Linked DNA regions of Homo sapiens. The protein of the gene in region 2 purifies or fractionates together with the protein of the main gene of each other region. This does not show direct contact. Each region holds a gene or a part of one and is shown on either strand. Other genes may lie near its edges.

The links. The genes of interacting proteins can lie anywhere in the genome.
Region 1: the proteins of CFAP251 (region 2) and ZNF397 purify together in Homo sapiens (co-immunoprecipitation; one large-scale study listed by IntAct). This does not show direct contact.

Annotation. Positions count from the first base shown.
Region 1 is NC_000018.10:35,244,034-35,247,170, reverse strand, and holds part of ZNF397 (zinc finger protein 397), read right to left. Parts: intron 1,910-3,137; coding exon 861-1,909; 3' UTR 1-860. UniProt on the Homo sapiens protein: Isoform 3 acts as a DNA-dependent transcriptional repressor.
Region 2 is NC_000012.12:121,967,092-121,970,591, reverse strand, and holds part of CFAP251 (cilia- and flagella-associated protein 251), read right to left. Parts: intron 2,587-3,500; coding exon 2,423-2,586; intron 1-2,422.

The DNA of each region.
Region 1 (3,137 bases), on a different chromosome or scaffold from region 2:
AGACTTCTCTGACAGACAAGACCTCACTACAACAGGAACTCAAGGAATGCTCCACACTTTGTTTCTGGCCTTTGGCTACTGTTCTTTACTGGGGTACCACTTCCCTAGAGTACCACCTTGGCTAACTCCTCCTCATCCTTCAGGCCATTTCCCCCATTTCCTTATCCAAGGCTGAGTCAGGTGCTCCTTAAGGTCACATAGGAGCATTCCACTTTCACTGCCTGTCTGGCTGCCTTGCCCATTAGACTGTAGAGACTACAGTCTTGTTTTCCACTGTATTCCTAGTTCCTGGGACAAAGTAGGTACTCAAAAAATAACCTTTGGGTAAATTATATTCTTTCTTCTCATGCCTATCTAATTCCTGGCCTGCCCTGGGCTCAACAAATCATTGATGAAGCCATTTCCCCACCTTTCCTGCTGCTCTGTCACTGTTCTTTATTGGGTCAGTTTTTTTTTTTTTTTTAGTTCCTGAGACGAAGTGCCTCACACAGTCCACACCAGCCCCATAACCTGGCACACTAACAATCAGATGCAGTGACAGAGCCTGGGTTGCTATATTCATGACACTTTCATACAAAATGAGGTTTCAATGTTACATTCCCACTTTTCGTATTTCCTGAGTATTCCTAATAAGAGAAGAGCTGGAAGTAATGATTCTTCTGTATTCTGTTCTGATTAGTCACAGGAAAAGCTTTCAAGGGACACTTTACATTAGCACTGGGAAATGCTGCACAAAGCAAGCTAGACTCAAGACCTAGTATTTTATAACCTTTATGGAGTTTTGCTCCAAAGTAAACTCTTTTGACTAACAAACTTAAAAATCTGACTGAAGTATTTACACTATTCACAGTATTCACAAATTACTTTATAGTGTGGACTCTTTGATGGCGCATAAGGACCGATCTGTGCCTGAAAGCCTTCCCACATTCATTACATATATAAGCTTCATCCCCAGAATGAATTCTCTGATGCTGAACAAGGGCTGAGCTCCTTTTGAAAGTTTTGCCACATTCATTACACTGATAAGGTTCCTCCCCACTATGAATTCTCTGATGTCTGATAAGGTTTGAGCTCAAACTGAAAGCTTTTCCACATTCACTACATTCATAGGGTTTCTCTCCACTATGTATTCTCTGATGAGTAATCAGCTCTGAGCTCTGCCTGAAAGCTTTTCCACATTCATTACATTCATAGGGTCTCTCTCCTGTGTGAATTCGCTGATGTCTAATGAGTTTTGAGCTCTGGCTAAAGGTTTTCCCACATTCATTACACTCATAAGGTTTCTCACCAGTGTGAATTCTTTGATGTATAATGAGATATGAACTTTGACTGAATGCTTTGCCACACTCATTACATTTACAAGCTTTCTCACCAGTATGGATTTTCCGATGTCTAATGAGGGCTGAGCTCTGATTGAAAGCTTTCCCACATTCACTACATTCATATGCTTTCTCACCACTATGAATTCTCTGATGAATAATAAGATAGGACCTCAAACTAAAGGCCTTCCCACACTGGTTACATTTATAGGGCTTTTCTCCAGTATGGATTCTCTGATGTTGTGTTAGAGAGGAATGCTGCTTGAAGCTGTGCCCACATACATCACATCTATAAGGTCTCTCTTCTGGAGGAACTTTCTGACACATTATAGAGTCTGTAGTTAGAATCAAGCATCTTTCAGCCTCATCATAAAGGTCTCTCTTTCCTAGAGATTTGTTTGTGAAGATCACTTGACTAAAACTGCCCCCTTGGGAAGGAGATCTTAGTTTCTCCCCTGTAGCACTTCCTTGCTTCCACACTAAATTGCTTTCATGCTCACTAATTCCTCGAAATGAAGGTTCCTGAGGGAGTCCCTGTGATTTTTCTTCTGAGATGCCCTCTTTTGTTGCTGTTTCACTGTTCTCACAATCTGAAACAATAAGTAGCAAAAAAACAGATATTACATTTCTCTTGTCACCGTCAAAACTTTCTACATGAGAGAAAACAGAAGCTTCTACCTACAAAGATGTCACTGTCCTCCAGTATCTTTTTTTTCAACTGGCCAAAAGAGGGTCTCTCTTATCTAATAATAAAGTCTACATCTACACTTCGAATTCCATCCTTTCCTGCCTCTTTTGAGACATCAACTGATAAATTACCTACAATTTTTTTCTACTATTTACAATCTCTTTCTCAACTGATTCCTGTTCATCAGCTTTTAAATAAGCTTAAGTGTCTCTCACCTTTTAAAATCAACCTTCTTGCCTACATATCTCCCTCAAGCAACCTCACTCTCTCTCAAGTGGTTTCGCAACCTCACTCTCTCATAGTGATTTCTTGAAAGAGTTGTCTGCAGCCTTTCAAGTGAAAGTATCCTCATTCCACAATCTGGTTTCTGCCTTACTGTCCTCCCCCGCCCCCCACCGCCCCGTCCCCTACTTCCACTGATACTACTCTCATCAAGATCACTTCATAGCTCTTTAATCCACTAAGTACTTTCTAGATTATTACTTAGCCTCTCTGTAGCATTGACACTGAGGATCACACCTTCCTTCTAGAGACATTCTCTTCCAGTGATATTAGCCTGATTTCTGTGGCTGTTCCTTCTTAGATTCTAGGGTAAATCACTCAAACACGAGCGTTCCTCCAGATTCTGTTTTGGGCTCTCATGTATCCTTACTCTACAAACTCTCTACCCTTGGCTTCCATTACATCTTACATTGTAAGCTATTGTCTGACTAATGTCTGCCCAGATCCCCAATTATATCCATATTTTATTAAGCTCTAGAGTCTTATGCTAATTGGGCATTTTACTTTTGAATATTTCACAAGCACCAAATGTACCAACCTAAACACATCATCAGATGTATCTGTTTTTCCTTATGTTTTCTCATTCACATGAACAGTACTACCATTAACCAGACTGTTGAAGACTGAAACCTCAGTATCATCCTCAACTCCTCTCCCTCACACTCTAGTTTTAATAATTACCAGATGTTGCAAAACAACTTAAATGCTGTTGAACAGGAGTCAGCTTTTATGTTCTCCACCGCTTACCATAACACATATTGATTGAATACACTGTGGCCACTTGGATTACAGCAGTCTTTAATAGGACTATACTCTTGCCTTCCTTACATGATTCTCCATTTGCAGCT
Region 2 (3,500 bases):
TCCATACAGTACTTCTGGAAAGGAGCTAAAGCTCAGCCCTGTGGCAAGCACACAGTAGGTGCTCTGTAAACGCTCCCTGGATGAGGAGGAGGAGGAATGGTCTGAACTTGGTGGTAGCAGTCCCATTTAAGAGTTGGAGGAACTGAGGCTCCGAGAAGTGAAGGGACTTGCCTGGCGTCATCCAGCAAGCAGGTAGTGATTAGCTAGGATTCGAATCGGGGTCTCTCTGCTCTTGGCTGAGCAGGGCAGCAGGATGACAGGAGGCAGGGAGGATGAGCACAAAAAAGTAATGCAGGATTTGGAAACAGATGCCAGACAAGGAGAAGAGAAAGGGTGCATGCTAGCACGGAGCAGGAGAAGAAGGGGCGTGCGGAATGAACCCTGAGAGAGGGGATGGAAGGGGCTCTCCCGGGGCAGAAGCGCCATAGACTGTGATGGTAGCAGTTGGGGCCAAGGGGTGCACTGACTGAAATGATCGAATGTGAGGGGATTTATCATCTTTATCTCCCCTACAACTCATCATCAGTAACTCTAGTAGGAAATTCTGTTTGTTTACTTGTTTAGGTTTTTTACATTTCTCTCCATTAGTGAAGTGCTGATCATATTAAGTCACCAGAAGCAGCAATGAAGTGATAATTAGTTTATAATGATCCTTTGTCCCCACCACAGATTAAATTGAAATTCTCAGAAGCCTGGACTCTGGCCAGGCGAAAGCTATTGGAAAGCAGAGGCCTTTTTTTCTTCTTCTTAAATTTCTACCATTCCAGATCCCACGACGACTGAGAAGAAGACAAACATTTCAGAAGGAAGGTTCTAGCTGGGTGCAGTGGCTCACATCTGTAATCCCAACACTTTAGGTGCCCAAGGCTTGAGCCCATGAGTTCAAGACCAGCCTAGGCTTGGTGTGACTCTGTATCGACAAAAAAAATTTTTTTAAAGTTAGCCAGGCACATTGGCATATGCCTGTGGTCCCAGCTACTCAGGAGGCTGAGGCAGGAGAATTGTTTGAGCCCAGGAGTTCGAGGCTGCAGTGAGCCATGATCACACCTCTGTACTACAGCCTGAGCGACTGAGCCAGACCCTGTCTCAACAACAACAACAAATAGAAGGGAAGGTTCTGCTTGTCCCCACAGGGTGTGGCTTGCCCCCATGGTTCCAGGCAACAAGCCAGGGAGCAAGGAACCAGGCAGCCATTCTGAGGCCATGATCCCTTTTCAATAGGAGAGTTCACCTCCAGCTCCTAAATCCTCAAGTTCCCAAGATCTGCTCTCTCAGGTGAAGGTGGGGTGGAAGTCAGAGCTGCAAGTGCAATCTCAAACCACCGTGGTTCCAAAGCAGATTTAACCGGCTATTTTTGCTCATATTCAGGTTAAGAGTAGAAGCTTCAATATCTGCCATAAAAAGAAAGATGTGCATTTGGCAGATGGCAGGGGGTACACTGTGCTGGCAGCCAGGAATCAGGTTTGTTTTCCGAGGAAGGAAGGTGCCTCTGAGCTGTTTTTGCTCCTCAACGTCACACTACCGAGAGAGGCCCAGCCGAGCCACAGGCAGCGCAGGGGCTTGGAGAAGTGGTCAGGAACAGGAACCGGCTGCCACATGGTTGACTCTGCCCTGCGGCAGCATGCCGGATTTGGGTAGATGAGAGGACAGTGTGGGTGCTTGTCCCCTCTTTATTAGGGAAGATTCTGAGCTCATAAGCAAATGCCCTTACAGGAAGAAGAGACGAAAGGAAATCATTCACTTGCCGAGTACTTTGCTCTGTACTAGGTGCTTTTCCCCTATTAAACTACCTGATCTTTACAGGGATCCTACAGAAGTTCCTATTATCACCCCCATTTCACATGCTATCACCCTCATTTTGCATGCAAGGAATCTAAAGATCAGGGACGTTAAGAAGCTTGCCCTAGGCCCCATAGCCAGTAGAGGGTGGGCCCATATTCAAACTCATATTATCCCTTTCACCTCAAAGTCCACATACTCTCCAATGTTCAACTCTAGAATTCTCCAGCCTCGCCTCAGGCAGAGGTTCTCCATTCAGGGCAGGGAGGGTGAGAAGAGGAGCCGAAAATACCACTTGAAATGATCCTCTTACTATTTCCGTAGTATATGCTTTGGAGGGTCGGCCTAGATCTTTCTAGCAGGTGTGGATATGTGGAGCAGAGGGAGAAGCATTTTAGGGAGCAGGGGTGAGCCCAAGGTGCTGTCACATCGCCTGAACTGCAAACACCATTGGTCCATGGGACAGGACAGCAACTCCTGTCTGCAGAGTAATGTGAGCAATGCCACCGGGGAGCAACCTGAAGGCCAGGCCCTGTGACATCCTAGCACAGTGCCTGGCACGCAGTAGGGTTCAGTGTCTATCACTGTTGCTGAGTGAAAAGGAGTTTACACTTGATACCTTCCTTCTCGCCCCATCGTGTACCTTAAGGTGATTTTCCACTGCACCACCGAGCGATCGTGCCCTCCCGCAGTGAAGGCGTAGCAGCCATCATAGGAAACGGCCATGCCGGCCACCCCGTTCGGGTGGCAAACAATAGCAGATGTCTTATGTGGATTGCCGTCAACTGGTAAGATCTGAAGTCCCACCTAGAAAGGAACACATAATTGGATATTCAGACTCAGGTAGCTGGGCCCGAGAGAGGCCTGGCACGTTCACATGTCACCTCCAGATCTGTGTGCCAGAAGGACCTGTGTGTCTGGACCCATCTCTGAGTGTGAGAGCCACATTTAATGTAGCTGGGCATCCACACACACCAGCCCTGGTAGGGGGCCCCTTGCACAGCTCTAACAGGTACACAGAAGGGAAGCTTTCCTCCCTGCCTTCATGGTCAGTTGTCCAGGGTTTTCCAGAATACATCTCACAACCTATGACTTTACACTTTTCTTTTTTTTGACGGAGTCTCACTCTGTCGTCCAGGCTGGACTGCAGTGGCGCGATCTCGGCTTACTGCAAACTCCGCCTCCCGGGTTCATGCCATTCTCCTGCCTCAGCCTCCTGAGTAGCTGGGACTACAGGCGCCCACCACCACGCCCGGCTCATTTTTTGTATTTTTAGTAGAGACGGGGTTTCACCGTGTTAGCCAGGATGGTCTCCATCTCCTGACCTCGTGATCCACCCGCCTTGGCCTCCCAAAGTGCTGGGATTACAGGCGTGAGCCACCTCACCTGGCCCGACTTTACACTTTTCAACGCAGATTATTCATTAAATGTACAACAAAGTGTAACTAATTTGCATATTTTTACAAGAGTTTTTCCATGTAAATAAATAAGAAGGAAAAATCCTTTGGTGGCCCATGTATCTTCACTGGGAATATAGAAAATGCAGTAACTCTGCTCAGAAATGTCTCCCAAGAGTCTTCCTAACTCATCAAGGGCAATTTTCAGTATCACAGCTGACTGGGGTGGAAGCAGTTGGGCTTGGCTGTAAACCCAGAACTCTCTGAGTCTCGTGATCTTCAGTAATGACTGCTGCTCATGACACACAGAGTCAACTCCCAGAA